Linked DNA regions of Homo sapiens. The protein of the gene in region 1 interacts with the protein of each later gene in a biochemical or structural test. Each region holds a gene or a part of one and is shown on either strand. Other genes may lie near its edges.

What was found. Proteins that work in one complex are often made in the same cells at the same time.
Region 2: the proteins of ERRFI1 (region 1) and WEE1 form a complex in vitro, tested with the Homo sapiens proteins (one study listed by BioGRID).

Annotation. Positions count from the first base shown.
Region 1 is NC_000001.11:8,023,172-8,030,924, reverse strand, and holds the start of ERRFI1 (ERBB receptor feedback inhibitor 1), read left to right. Parts: upstream 1-4,615; 5' UTR 4,616-4,767; intron 4,768-7,753.
Region 2 is NC_000011.10:9,568,528-9,576,726, reverse strand, and holds the start of WEE1 (wee1-like protein kinase), read right to left. Parts: upstream 3,058-8,199; 5' UTR 2,794-3,057; coding exon 2,218-2,793; intron 2,041-2,217; exon of another isoform or gene 1,352-2,040; intron 1,235-1,351; exon of another isoform or gene 1,218-1,234; intron 840-1,217; coding exon 634-839; intron 498-633; coding exon 434-497; intron 241-433; coding exon 68-240; intron 1-67. UniProt on the Homo sapiens protein: Acts as a negative regulator of entry into mitosis (G2 to M transition) by protecting the nucleus from cytoplasmically activated cyclin B1-complexed CDK1 before the onset of mitosis by mediating phosphorylation of CDK1 on 'Tyr-15'.

The DNA of each region.
Region 1 (7,753 bases):
AAAAATTAATTAATTAATGTATCCACAAGACTAAAAAATTTACAACAGTTACACATTTTAAAGATGGGATAGAATTAGAAACATAATAACCACCAATAGCATTTAATGTTAAGAGAGCATTTGGTAAATGAAAGGTAGCTCAGTTAAAAATAAACAACTACGCGAACAGCCTGTCTAAAACTCATACTAAGAAAAAGCAGTGAAGCCCTGGCCCTAACACTTAAAATAATAGACTGGGAAATTAAAACCAACCTGCTCAGACTTCCACAGGCGAAGTATCCTTTTTGGGGAAAAACTAGGAAGGGAGAGCAGTACCCCTAATTAACTAATGGAAAAATGGGCTGGGCATGGTGGCTCACGCCTATAATTTCAGTACTTTGGGAAGCCAAGACAGGGAGATCACTTGAGGCCGGGAGTTCAAGACCAGTCTGACCAACACAGAGAAACCCCGTCTCTACTAAAAGCACAAAATTAGCCGACGTGGTGGTGCATGCCTATAATCCCAGCTACTCGGGAGGCTGAGGCAGGAGAATCGCTTGAATCTAGGAGGCGGAGGTTGCGGTGAGCCCAAATCACGCCATTGCACTCCAGCCTGGGCAACAAGAGCAAAACTCTGTCTCAAAAAACAAATAAAAAACAAAACAAAACAAAAAAGACAAAAAAACAGAAAAAGGAAAAATGAAATGTTGCCAAGAAATATATTTTCTGTGCTACTTTTCAAATGGCCACTAAGGTTGAAAAGTGAAAAGTCCATGGAAATCTCTTTGGGGTTGTGGTACTCCTCATGGGTGAATCTAGGCTCTTATCAGCATGTGTGTTTTAGAATCATCCAGAGTTCACCAGGCGCGGTGGCTCAAGCCTGTAATCCCAGCACTTTGGGAGGCCGAGGCGGGCGGATCATGAGGTCAAGAGATCAAGACCATCCTGGCCAACATGGTGAAACCCCGTCTCTACTAAAAATACAAAAATTAGCCGGGCGTGGTGGCACCCACCTGTAGTCCCAGCTACTAGGGAGGCTGAGGCAGGACAATCGCTTGAACCCGGGAGGCGGAGGTTGCAGTGAGCTGAGATGGCGCCACTGCACTCCAACCTGGGGACAGAGTGAGACTCCGTCTCAAAAAAATGAAAAGAATCACCTAGAGTTTATTTTATATGTTGAGTGTGTGTGTGTGTGTGTGTGTGTGTACATGCATGCGTTTTGGAAACATCCATGAACAGAAATATGAATGTTCCCAAAATGCAATGTAGCACACTAAGCAAACACCCTCTAGGAAATGTAATTCCTCTCTTGGTTGTATTTTTTTATTGCACACTTATCTATAAAATAGTTTAAGTGCATAATATACATTTATATTATGTATAGACAGAAACAAAGGCTCTAGGACCAAGAGGGACATACAAAATGTGTTTAACTTTAAAATATTTATTATAAACAAAGTAGAAACACAAAAACTTCTATAATCAAGAAGAATAAACACCAAAATGTATATGTTCTTCTACAGGATTAAAATAATATCAAAATACAAATATAAATTTAATAAGGACCTGTCCAGCATGTTATACTTACACACGACTTGTGGCATTTCTTTGAGATGAGAGAAAGAAGCAATGTTTTCAGGAAAACAGTGTCTGTGATTCTAAGGTTTCTGAGCCAGAACCTCACCCTTGTTCTCACTCCAAAGACAGCTTCTTCTTACACTGAAAGAAGGGCAAGTGAAAAGTGACAATTTGGGTCAATGTGATGCAAGTCTAACGTTTTAGATGTTGAGTTCTATTAAAAAAATCAACTAATATAAATTCCTTGGAAAATGGCCTCAAAATTAAGCAGACTGTGAGAGATATAAAAAACACTGTCTTACTTTAAATGTCATGCTTTTCTGGAGATAATTTAAAACAAATTGGGTTCAGGAAAAAGAGACTATTTCCCCGAATCTCTGGTGTAGTGTTCTAATCTATTAAAGGTCAATGAATAATCACTTAATAAACACAACATGCTAGTATTACTTCAAGATGCTTAGCGTTTTGCTTTTAAACTCTTCCCAAGATGTCCTACAATATTATTGACATATCAATGTTATTATAACACATCATTAACAGACTATTAGATAAAAAATTTGTGGGGTGTAAGTCTTCTCATGTAATTCTTCCACAGCTGAGAAAGCCATATTATATAACTGCAAGCTAAACACAGCAAACTAGTGGCTAAACAGGTTTTCCCCAAAAAATGAATAAATCAAGTTTATTTTGCAAGTTGTTTAAAATAGAAAAATCAGATTAATCACATATTACTCATGGGATTTTATGATTTTTGATAATTTACCAAAACATTAGCACATCATACAGCTCACAACTGTAGAGTGAGTATCCTGTTGATCTTCTTTCTCTAAAGAAGGGGTGTGTTTGATGGTTGCTCTGGTGATTATCACTGTTTTATGAATAGGGGAATGTAAAAGCACGCCAATAAGGCCGAAGCACAAATTACAACTGTATTGTAGTGACTTGAAATAGTATAGCCAGGGCTCCTTTCAGATGAAACTTGAGCTCCTTTAGGTGCCCATTCAGTAAATCCTGTCCCGTGAGGTTTGAAAAGATGTACCCTGGCAAGTTCTCACACTCATCTTTTTTTTACACTGATAACAGCATATGGGTAAGCCACAAACATAAATGACGCCAAAATGGGAGGAAAATCGGGACAGATTTTCTTTGGATCAAAAAACCTAGTTAGTTGGTAAGGAACTCTGCAATTAGTTGTGACTCATTTCCATCATCCTAAAATAATACTAAATGAATGGCTGTAAGAAGATAGGTTAACTGAATTGTTGACAAATGGCATAGGCATGAAAATGACCCAACAGCCCCTTGTAAGCCAGAAGAGCCATCAGAAAGGAAGCCAGATTTCTCTCTGCAAAACGTTCGTTTGTTTTGCAAGTGAGAGAGGGCAAAGATACTTCAGATTCTTTTTCTTTTTTTTTTCCTTTTCGTGCTTAAGGCCTTGAATTCAAAATTAGGCCTTTGAATTAAATTAAAAAGAATGTAAGTAAATAATAGTGGGGGAAAGGCAAATCATTTCATGGGGTGTAGAGTTAATAGTTAACCTGATAATAAGGCCAGAATCTCATTCCATATGTTAAACTACCCCAATTAGCTAGTGATCAGTGTCTAACTATCAGGCATTATTGCTGAAGTGCAAGCAGGGGCTCCAGGAGGCTAGAGGTCAGCGACAGGTCTCTGGGCTCTCCCAACAGAGGACCAGCCAGGGAATTTGTTCTAGTTAAAACTAGAGGGTTTCCGTCTGTTTGCTTTTTTTCTGACTTTAGTCACTCTTGGTTTGTTATCATTTGTATTATTTATTTTACGGTTAAACTATAAGCCTAAGTTGCATCACTGGCGCCCCGAGAAACCTCCTCCCACAGGCCCGCTGGGGCTTTGTCCTTGGGCATCCGTGGCCTCTCCAAAGCCAAAAGACGTCGGGGCCAGCTCAGGTCGCCTGAGTAAACACAAACCTGGGAAGCCGAGGGCCCCCTAAGTCAGTAGTGAGGGAGCTCCTCCTGGAAACCCACAGCGACCCTGAAGGGCTCAACCTCGAGCAGGACCTTTCCTCCATATTCCAACGCAGTCAGAGGAGCCCTGGGTTCCCCCCGCGTAGCCTCACCGCCCCACGCCGGCCCACTCTGTCCCCTCATCCTCCCTTGCTGTCCTACTCTGTCCCTCGCCATCCCTCACAGTCCCACACTGTCCCTCACCGCCCCTCACAGTACCTCACCGTCCACTGTCCCACACTGTCCCTTGACATCCTTCATTGTCCCTCACCGCCCCTCACAGTGCCTCACTGTCCACTGTCCCATACTGTCCCACACTGTCCCTTGCCATCCTTCACTGTCCGAGTCCCTCACAGTCCCAAAGTCCCTCACTGTCCCACAGTCCCTCACCGTCCCACACTGTCCCTCACTGTCCTACACAGTCCCTCACTGTCCCTCATCGTCCCGCACTGTCCCTCACCGTCCCACACCGTCTCTCATCGTCCCGCACTGTCCCACACAGTCGCTCACCGGTCCACACGGTCCCTCATCATCCCACACTATCCTTCACTGCCCCACACAGTCCCTAAGTGTCCCTCACTGTCCCTCCCACGCCGCAAGCCCAGTCGAGAGCGGCTCCCCTCTCCCCCTCCAGGGCTTCTTCGGCCCACACGGCCAGCGGCGGCCCGCGGAGAGGAAAAAACACACAATCTTGCCCGGAGCCTGAATTTATGGGAAATCCCGCGCGAAGCGCGATGTGCCCTCAGTTCGGGCAGGAACAGCGGCCGAGGCCCGGGTCGCCGCGGGCTTCTGAGGAAAGCTCGGCGTTGAGAGGCTCCCAGGGCTGCCGCACGGCTCAGGCAGAGGAGCGGAGCTGCGGCCGCGGTCAGCCCGGAGACGCCTCTCCGGGAGACAAAGCCGGCTCCCTGCAGCGCCGCGATACGCCACGGTGGGCCCGGCGCAACGCCTCGGCCACGGCATCGCCCCTTTAAGCGGCGCGCGCCCTGATTGGCTGCGGGAGGAGGCGGGGCGGGACGCGGCGACCTCACGGCCCGGCGGCCTATGCTATATATAGAGGCGGCGGCGGCAGCCGCGGCGACGGCGGTCCGGTGCGAGGCAGAGTGCTAGCGGGAGCGCGAGCCAGCAAGAGGCGCCTGCGCGATGTCCGGGCCCCTGAGCCCGCGGCGCTGAGCCAGCCGGGACGGACATGCGCGGGAGGGCGCCGCGGGGCAGCCGCCGCTCCTCCGGGGTAAGGGGCCTGGCGCGCTGAGGGGGTGGGGAGGGCCACGCAGCGCTCCGTTCCCTCAGGGGGCCCCGCGCCGGGCGCCGGGATCCAGGCGGCTCCCCGACGCGAGGGCGGGGGCGTGGAGGGCGCGGGGAGGGTCGCCGCGACGCGGAGTCTCTGGGATGGAGGGAGAGGCCGGCCGGTCGCTCGCGGGCTTCTCCCCATTGAGGTGTGGAGAGCGGGACCCTCCCCGGCGGCGCAGCCCGGGCCTGGGGACGCCGCGAAGTGCCGGCGCCCGCCGCCTTCTCCACGCCGGCTGTGGTCGTCGCGCGGCCCCTCGGCTGGCCGGGGCCATGCACCCGAGCGCCCGGGATACGTCCCCGCAGCACCGGGACCGCAGGAGCGGACGGGGGTTCGGGAGCGGCGAGCATGAAGGTCCTCGTCCCGCAGCCTGCGCTCGCGGGGTTGCCCGGCGGGGATGAGCGTCTTCGGGCCTGGGGGCTTGTTTGATTTTTTTTTTATTTGTAAAAAGGGGGTTGCGTTGTCTTGTTCACACCGTGTACCCGTAAATCCTGTCTTGAAAGCTGGGGTGGGAGGCTCGGCGATTGCTTGCGGTGGTTGGTACCGGTTCTCTGGCGGTCAGCCCCGCTCCCTCTGCCTAATCTCACAGCGACGATGGTAATGCCGAAATCAGTATTTAAAAATTCGTCTAAGCTGTTCTGAACTCTTCCTTCTCTCCTAGAAACGTGATTCTTTGCTCTGAGTGTCTTAAGTACGGCTTTGAATGGAATCGGACTGCAAAATTATGTGTTCAAGACGTGAATGCTTATTGGGAATTTTGTGTGTGTATTTATATGTATATCATAGCCCTGTACAAATTAGATGACTCTTTAACCGTGAATGGTGCTGTATTAGTGCTTGCTAAGTCTTTATTAGGATTTCATCATTGCTTGAAAGAAACCAGTCTCTTACCTGATAAAAATATGAATAGATGGTTAGTCATAAACTTAAGTCAGAATGGAGACTGTAGCTTTAAAAGAGATGTGTCGGTGACTTGAGGTACACCTGCAACACAGGTAGGGCAAGACTGGTTTCTAGGCAACTGTCAGGGGTGAAGAAAGGTGAGGTTAAAATGCCCTTTTTTTCCCTTCCAGAACAAATGTTCAACCTTTTATAAATGTGTAAGAATGCAGTGGGTACACACATTTGTTGAGACTGAACATCCCAAGTTCACCGTACCTATTTTTTTAACTGCATTTCTTTTCTTATATTTCTGTAATTACAATATACAGTTTTAAGTGAAATTTTATTTGAACAGAGACCAAAGACAGGCTAGGTATCAGCAAATGATCAAATTTTGCAAAGACCAAAATAAAAGAAGCTGGTTTCTTGCTAACATGCTGGCTATAATTGGTTACCAATATGTTATCAAGCAAGTTCTTTTCCAGATATTAGCAAGTTTGAAGAAAAATAACAAAGGATTTAGCATGGACTTCAGAAACTATTTGTCATTCCCTTTGCTTCAAGCAGAAGTTTATTTTCACCTGTGTGTTCCAGGGGACACTCGATAATAAGTGATAGAGGTCTTAGACTAACGATTTATAACCTGACAGATATATTAGATTGTAAACTCCTTAAGGGTAGGCACTCTGCCTTGTATAGCTTCTATCTTATGCAGCCTTGCACATAGTTGATGTTGATAAATAATTGCATGAAAGCATGTTTTACCTTTTAAGGCTCAGCAGGATTGGAGCAGTCATTGATAAGGGTTGGAAAGCAAATCTGTTTAATTTTTTTATGGCTGTTATGAAATGCCTGAATTATTGATATTTTTGACGGGTAAAACTGTTGTTTCAATCATCGGTTTTCCTACTTGCAGTTCACAATATATACTGGTCACTCTTTATAAGATTTAATTATGCTTGAGTTTTTGTGTGAAAATACCTCTTGACTGCTGCTTCTCAAAAGTTGAGCTAGATAATACTTCCTTTCTGCTGAAACTAATGGTGGCTTTTCAAAGCAATTTGCGTAAATTACAGGCACAATCTAACATGCTTGAAACTGACCTGATTGTCTGCATACCATCAGATTGCTTTAGAAAGGAGCAGAGGAAGGAAAGGAGGTGTCAGGGGTAACTCCAGGAATTGGAATGGCATAGGCTCCCTCTGCCAGAGAAACAACTCTGCTCTTGATCTAAATAAATTTGAATTGGTACCTCATCATCTGGATCCATTTGGATACATTTAGCATCCTTTGCGGGTGTCTGGCTATACAAAAGCTAATAAAGAACTCGCTACATAAACGCAGTCCAGTTGTGGTATTCTGGCATTGTTCACACAGCATAAACACGTGCTTTGTAAAGGTAGATGAGGCGAATGAGTTTGAGGGTCCTAAATGTAAGTTACTACCTTAACAATTAGTTTTAAGATAGGGAAAAGTTACTGAGGGGGGTTCAGATTTCAGAAGGTGGTGGGGAGGATTCTCAGATTTCAAGTCTTTGTTGATACTGTAGTCCAATTCCTCACACCATAAAATTGGGCAATATTACGAAAAGACCACTCTTCCAGGTCTCAATGAATGTGTCTTTAAAATGTGGGGCTTTTGGCCGGGCTCAGTGGCTCAGGCCTGTAATCTCAGCACTTTGGGAGGCCAAGGCGGGCAGATGGCTTGAGCCCAAGAGTATGAGACCAACCTGGGCAACATGGTGAAACCCTGTCACTACAAAAAAACACAAAAATTAGCTGGGTATGGTGGCACACGTCTGTAGTCCCAGCTACTCAGGAGGCTGAGGTGGGAGGATTGCTTGAGCCTGGGAGGCAGAGGTTGCAGTAAGCCAAGATCACACGACTGCACTACAGCCTGGTGACAGAGTGAGACTCTGTCTTTAAAAAATAAACAAACAAAAAAATGTGGGGCTTTGGCTACAGAAATGGAGCCCTTTTCAACTTGGAAACAATAGGAAGGTAAGGATTGGAAGACATTATCCAAAAGCTCTTATTCAATACCCCAG
Region 2 (8,199 bases), on another chromosome or scaffold:
CTGAAACCTTAATGTTAGTAACACCATAGGGGACAAAAGAGCAAAAGACAAAATGTTTAATACATACTCATCAACAGAGCCCGCCAATGGCTTTTTTGATCGCTTAATGGCATAAATGCATCCATCCAGCCTCTTCACACACTTAAATACAGAACCAAATTCTCCAGAGCCGATTTTCTCTAGCTCATGAAATTCTGTTGTATACCGGGACTTCATATTGCTTTCAGTAATTGTAATTCTCTGTAATAAAAAGTGTTTCCATATATGTAATACAAATATACGAAAACAGTTATTTCTTGCTATGGTGATAGGGCTATGTGTGAAATTTAAAAACCATTCTACCTTATGTGTTAATGCTTATTAACATATTCATAGCATGCTTTAAGTGGCAGAAAAGTAAATTTCAAAAAAATAAAAATAAAAAGCTATTTACCTTAGCAGGTCTTGTTTCATCTTCAAGCTCATAATCACTGGCTTCCATGTCTTCACCACAGGAACTAAAAAAAATGTTATTTTTCTATCAATATATCTGACAGATACATCCATGCCATTAAATAGGAACTAAATTTTGATAAGTATACCAAACCAATCTTAGGTTATTTGGAGAACCAAACTGTTAAATAAACGACTTACTCATTCCAATACGTTCTCTTTCTACGACGACACTGTCCTGAGGAATGAAGCAACAAAGAATCCGGAGTAAAAGGATTAATATTCACTTGAGGAGTCTGTCGCACATCAAATTCCCTTTTTCCTGATTTTTCTGTATCCATGAAGAGAGAACTACCCCGGAGTTTAACAGAGCTGGAATCAATTCCCCGAGCTTTGGAGAGCAAACTCTAGGGAAAGAAAAATACAAATACAATTTTTAGGATCCAAGTCCTATAGTCAGCCTTCTCAACCTAACCTTCAACGAGCCTTTCATAGGGCTGAATGCGTAGGTGAAAGCAACACACAAGCCTTTGTTAGAGTTCAAGCAAAATAAATTGTGGCTAATTTAGGAAGACTGAAGCTGGATATTAACTATCTTTTCTTGAAAAAAATAGCCAAGTAAAATCTGCCTCTAACCCTAAAAAGAATATAAATGCTGCCTAAAACTAAGTTCATTCTAGTGGCTAAAAGTTAACAAATTCTTTCAACCCATCCAAAAATAGAAAGCAGTCCGAGAGCCCCATAAAATCTCCCCTCCCCCATCTAGATAGGGCTTCCATAGCCACCTCCGCTGGACTCCTCCCCTCACTTCCAGAGGGATTTTGCCTTGAGCAAGTCGGCCAATAAACAGTACAGCTCGAAAGCACACAGATTGCCTAGGCTGATGACAAACAGTACATTGAAAACAAAACAAACTCACTTTAAAAGGTGCATCTTCCCTGTTAACCTTACAAATGCGAGGCTTGTCTTAATCTCTGGAAGTATCAGCTTTAAAATCTGCAGTTTTAAAAGTGGTCATCTGCGCAGTACTCGAAGGCCTTTCAAAACACAGGTGCTGAACACCTCCTTCTTTAAGATACCTTATCTACGGTAGGATGTTCCTAATCACACGGAGGCCGGCCAAACTCTGGGCACCGCAAACCCACGATAAAAACAAATGCTGGGCCAAGACCTTGTCCAGAAACAGGCCTCAGTACTGCCTGGACTTAGGATGAGTCTGTAGGACTGTAAATGCTTGGAAGGCCAGCCTTTACTCCCAAGTCCAAGCGTAGTCTCCCTGCATGCCCCAGACCTTTCCCCCATCCACGCCACACGACACGACACGATCAGGGCGGGACAATTATTTTTCTTTAAACTCCTTCTGCCCGCGCCGCCCAAATTACAGGCCCGATCGCCGCGTTTAAAAGGCATCCTATGGCTCGGGAGTGTCAGGTGGCCGGGCCGGCACCCTCCAGCATCCTCGCGAACCGCGTTATCGGTGCCGCACTCGGGGCTGACACGCTCGGGGCGGCCCGGACTCAACGGGCGGCAAATCCTTGGCCACCCGGACGGGCCGATCGGCCCCTTTGTAAGATGAAGTTCCAGACGAGGCCCATTGTTCAGTTACATAATCTCAACGGACAACCTCGGGGCAGGGCCAAACACAAGGGCTGCCAACTTTGGGGGGCGGCGCAGGAAAGCGAGGGGGGAGCGGCCGGCCGCTTCTGTAACCGAACCCAGGCAGCGGCGCTGGCCCCTCCGGCGCCGCGGCCCCGGCCGCCGGGTGCCCGCGCCCGCCGCTCTCACCTTGGGCGTGTGCGGGGTGTCGAAGAGTCGCAGCTTGCGGAAGGTCTTGTGTGGCGGGGTGCCCGGGTGGTCCGGCCGCGGCGAGCGGCGGCCTTCGCCCGCCCGGCGCGCCCCGCAACCCCGCGGCGACGCATCTCCTGGGCCGCCGCAGCGCACCGGCGAGAAAGAGCTACCCAGGAAGTAGGGGGCCGCCGGCGACTTGACCGGCGACGAGGAGCCGAAGCCCTCCTCCTCCCACGAGTCGCCCTCCGCCCCACCGCCCGCCTCGTCCGCGCCCGGGCAGGCGCCGGGCAGCAACAGGTCCTCCTCCAGCTCGCCGGGGCTGCCGGGGGCCGGCCCGGGCGAGCGGCGGCGCTCGGGCCCGGGCTCCGTGGGGCTCCGCGCGGGCGGCAGCGGCGAGTCGGGCTCTTGAAAGGCCGAGTCCTCCCCGGTGCTGTGGCCGCTGCCCTCCTCCTCCTCCTCTTCTTCCTCCTCCTCACAGTCGCTGCAGGGCGAGAAGATCAGCTTCTGCCGCAAGGTGCAGGCCGCCCCGGCGCGGCGGGGTGGCGGCGGCTGCTGTCGGCTCAGGAAGCTCATCGCGGCCCTGGGGACGGGGCCGAGGACAGGAGAGCGGAGGCCTGCGGGGTCCAGGACACTGCGGGCCTGGGGGCGGGTCCGCCACGTGCGGCTGGGCGCGCCTAGTCGCAGCCGCGGCGTCTCTGCGCGGCGGCGGCCTGCGGCTCCGGGGCGCTCGGGCTGCGGACGGTGGCGGCAGCGGCGGCGCGGACTTTCCGGCAGAGGCGGGGCGGCCCGAGCACCGAGGCTGAGGTCTCCTCAGGTCCAGTCTCAGGTTCGGGCTCCGCGGCTTCCCGCGACCGTTAACCACGTGAGTGCCCAGTCCACCAATCCCAGTGCAGCTCCGGGTTTGAAAAAAAAAGGAGGGCGCGACGTAGCCCGCGGGGGAAGGACCAGCTACGCGATTTTGGCGGGAACCCGCTGGCTCCACCCCCGGCTCGGCGCCAGCCAAGTCTGGGCGGGCTGTGGTGTTCCGGGCCTATGAGCGAGCCTGGGGCGGCGGGGGGCCCGGCCCGGCGCCGCCCGAACACCGCCCGGACGGGGCTGGGCCTTCTGGGAGGGGCAAAAGAGAGCTGGATTCGCCTAAGCCGACCCGAAAGCCGGCCTGGACGCACCCCCCTCGCTGCTCCTCCGGTGCTGGGGGATCTGAAGAGGGGCAGGCGGCCGGGCAGCGCCTCCGGGTCTCTGCGAGCTGGGAAGAGCCAGGGACCGAATGGCCTTCGGCCGCTGCCCTCGGAGGCCGCTTCTTGCCCCTCGTCCCCTGGGGCGAGCCACTGGGGCGTAGTGGGCGTGGCAGTGGGCAGCCACGTTCAGGGTCGAGGTCTGAGCCGGAAATGGTGACTCGGGCCTCGGGACCTTTCTGAACTGCGGGAGCCGATGTGCTTAGGCTGGACACTGGCTGGGAGGAGGCCTCCGAGCCCCATTATTTCCCCGGGGTGGGTGACTGTTAGGGGCGGGTGTCAGCACAGCGAGAAGAGCTCTCCCAAGCAGGGGTCCACCTCTGCCGACCTTGTCCGCGGCCAAAAGAAACAGCAGCACAGTTGCCCACCACGAAACCAAGTGCCCGGCACACGATCTCCGTGTTTACATTTGTTCGCCAGCACGTGGGCATGCGTTGGCAAAACCGATTGGCCCGGCTCGCGGCAAACTCAAACGCAATTTTAAAAAATTTCCCTAGTGCTTCGTTAAACTGATTTAATCTGTCCCTTAATGCACTTACACGTTTCTTCCAGTTTTCTTTTTTCTTTCTTTGTTTATTTATTTTTTTTTTTTTTTCTGAGACGGGGTCTTGCTCTGTCACCCAGGCTGGAGTGCAGTGGCACGATCTCGGCTCACTACAACCTGCAACCTCCGCCTTTAGAGTTCAAGCGATTCTCATGCCTCAGCCACCCGAGTAGCTGGGATTACAGGCGGCTGCCACCACACCTGGCTAATTTTTGTATTTTTAGTAGAGACGAACTTCCCAATGTTGGCCAGGCTGGTCTCCAACTCCTGATCTCAAGTGATCCGCCCGCCTCGGCCTCTCAAAGTGCTGGAATTACAGACGTGAACCACCGCTCCCGGCCTCTTCCAGTTTTCTGTTGTAAACAACCCCGTGGTGTATATGCTTCCTTCTCCATGTTTTTTGTTTGGTTTGGTTTTTTTCGACACGGAGTCTCGCTCTGTCGCCCCAGGCTGGAGTGCAGTGGCGCGATCTCGGCTCACTGCAGCCCCCACCTCCCGGGTTCTCGGGTTCCAGCGATTCTCCTGTCTCCCGGGTAGCTGGTATTACAAGCACATACCAGGCCTGGCCAATTTTTGTATTTTTACAAAATGCAAAATACGGAGTTTCACCATGTTGGCAGGCTGGTCTCAAACTCCTGACCTCAGGTGATCTGCCCGCCTCGGCCTCCCAAAGTGCTAGGATTACAGGCGTGAGCCACCGCGCCTGGCCTTTTTAAAATACTCTTTTGGATACCTCCCTGGAGTTAGAATTCCTCAGTCAAAGGATATAAACTGGCAAACTCCCCCTCCAGAAACACAATACATTCTCACTAGCAGTGGATTAGAGCACACTCTGTGAATTCAGGACATCAGTGGATGTTCGTTGATGTGGTTTTGTTGTTTTGATTCATATTGTTGAACAGTTGTCATGGGTTTAATGATAATTTACATTTATCTCTATTGCCTATTTTTCTTATTGTTAGCACTTTATGCATATTAACACTTTGTCATATATGTTGTTCTAATGCTTTTCAAAGGCTAAATAAACTCAAGCTGAATTTTTCTTGAAACACACGGTAGTACTTAACACATCAAATCGGGAATTTCCTGAGATCACACAACTGAAGACACAGTGAAGGATCAACAGCTGTCTTTTCTCCTAACATTTGCTAACTGGTGTATAAATGTGTTTTTTATATGGTCATGCAAACTTAATTTTAAGCTCTTGGAGGACAAGAATTCTAGACTTGTATAAGGAGAGTTAGTCAATGATCCACAGTGGCCAAAGCCAAGGAGTGATTTTCAGAACCCTTGCTCCAACACTTCCCCTCCTGCCACTCCTTTTTTTTAAATTTTTATTTTTCGAGACAGGGTCTCACTCTGTCCACCCTGTCTCAAAGTGGAGTACAGTGGTGCAATCACGGCTCTGTAGCCTCGATCTCCCCAGGCTCAAGAGATCCTCCCACCTCACCCTCCCAAATAGCTGGGACTAATGATGTGTGCTACCACGCCCAGCTAATATTTGCATTTTTAGTAGAGACTCTGTTTCACCATGTTGCCCAGGCTGGTCTAGAACTCCTGGGCTCAAGCAATCTGCCCGTCTCCGTCTCCCAAAGTGCTGGAATTACAGGCATGAGCCACCATATTGCCCAGGCTGTGGGCCCCCTCCTGCCACTCCTGATGACAAATATAATTATTTGATATAATTGACATTTTCTCAATTTATTATGAAGCATAAATAAAAATAGAGAACCCTACTTTTATCGATCTGTAACATAAACTGCATGTGAAAATAGTGTGCTTTCTAAGTAAATGGGACTTTAAAGCCCTTTAGTTGCCTCTCCACAACTAGACTGATGCTCCTAAACTCCTCCTATGTAAGAATTCCGTATCTCTGTTCTCACGTCCCCTCCCTCACTCTTTGCTCTTTCACAACACCTGGCTTTATTTCCTTAGCAGGCTTATTTCTATCTCAAAGTACGTTGTTAGTTTATTACTATCTCCTTCTAGAAAAATAAGGTCCCCGAGGGTAGGGGACCCTTGTTTATTGCAGTATTCTAACGTGGATTAGGCGTTCACTCCCTTGTGAGTGATAAAAGAGCCCTTATTTAAATAATTGTTGGTTTATTCGCTTCCTAAATTGGCACATTTGCAGATAAGTTTGCCTATTTAAGATTTTGAATCGGGTGTGGTAGTTGTTCACACCTGCAATCCCAACACTTTGGGAGGTCAAGACAGGAGGATCACTTGAGGCCAGGAGTTCAAGACCAGCCTGGACAACATAGTGAGACCTCACCTCTACTAAAAATTTAAAAATTAGCTGGGCATGGTGTCACATGCCTGTGGTCCCAGCTACTCAGGAGGCTGAAGTGGGAGGATCCCTTGAGCCTGAGAGATGAAGGCTGCAGTGAGCTGTGATTGTGCCACTGCACTCCAGCCTAGGCAGCAGACCGAGAACTATCTCAGGAAAAAAAAAAAAAAATTGAACAGAGATCACCACTCTAGTACTCTATTTAATGCAAGATTGTAGAGGTAGCAGCCATCACACTTCCTATTTTTCCCCATGGTTTTTCCCCACTCCAGTAACAAAAACTTAAATGGTACAAAATTCTCCCACCTATCCCTTCAAATCCCAGCCCAGTTCCCCTTCCTGAAGGTAAACACTCTTAACAATGTTTTGTTTTGTTTTGTCAACTCCTACTTTGCCACCTGTCTGCGTCCCTAAATGGGAGGTCTTTGAAGTAGGCTAAGGCAGGCAGAAGGGCTTGGGTTGTGGATGGGAAGGGAAGAGTTCTTGGTCCACAGACCCAGGACTTTGAAGTCCTCACACAGAATCGAAGAGGTAAGTTCACAATAAATGTGTAGAATGATTGGGGGAAATAATTTTTTTTTTTTTTTTCCTTGAGACAAGGGTTTGCTCTATTGCCCAGGCTGGAGTGCAGTGGTGCGTTCACGGCTCACTGCAACCTCCCCTTCTGGGCTCAAGCAATTCTCCCACCTCAGCCTCTTGAGTAGCCAGGACTACAGGCAAGTGCCACTACACCTGGTGAATTTTTGTATTTTTTGTAGAGACCGGGTCTCACCATGTTGCCCAGGCTGGTCTTGAACTCCTGAGCTCAAGTGATCTGCCTACCTCAGCCTCTCACAGGGTTGGGATTACAGGTGTGAGCCACTGCACCTGGCTGAAGGAATTTTTTTTTTAAGTTGAAACCAAGACTCAGTGCTAGAGCCATTTCCTCTGTGAAGCCTTTCCTGACTCTCCATTCCCTACTCCAGACTTTCCACCGCACCCAGCACGGACTATGTAACACTCTTACTTTGTTTACTTGTCTGGTTTTCACACTGCCCAGGGCAGGGTCCAAACTGTGTTTGTCTTCAGAGCTCCAGCAACCAGCACTGTGCCTTGGCCCCTGAGAAAGTGCTTAATAAATGTTTCTAGAATAATTTAATGAAAATCCAGTGATCTTTAAAACAAAAGTGCCAAAATAACAAAACAAAACAAAAGTGAGAAACCCAGGCCCTGCCTCTTCAAGCTGAGAACATGGCACAATATTATGGTTTAACTGTAGCAACATCCTAACTGAAATTTTAAGTGACTGTTCTGATTTTTAAAATTTCACGCTCCTCTGAGTAAAGCACACACTGTACTGGAGAGATGGGTTACACCCGCCTGCCCCAGGCCGTATCTAATTCAAATTTCCAGTTCCTTTCTCCACCCAATGTTGTTTCTAACTAATGTTGCTAGGCAACTTTTGCAGAATCCACATGCTTGTGGTAATGTTGAAAGAACTGAGTAAAAATCTTGCCTCTAGCTTCTGGGATAACAAACCTAACCTGTTTATCCTCTTTAGATTCATGACTTCGCACGTAAAGGGCTTTAAAACTATTTTCAACCCATTCACCTTCCTTGGCAACAAAACAAGCAAGATTCTTCCCATGAAGATTTAAAACTGAGATTTCTAAATCACCTTCTCAAGTATTTTTAATACATATAGCACATGAATATGCATGCATATTCCTATTAACATGAGCCTTGCACTTTGAATGAAATCCTTCAGAACTAGGAACTAACTTTTCTCAGTGATGCAAAGCCTTTAGGAATGTTTCGTTAAGACTAGTCAGCCGTTAGCGAAAGCTGAATCTTTTCTATTAATATGCTCTTTATTCTGGAGAAATAATCAGTTTCTCTAAGGACCCTACTCTGATAGATTTCTAACTTTAAAA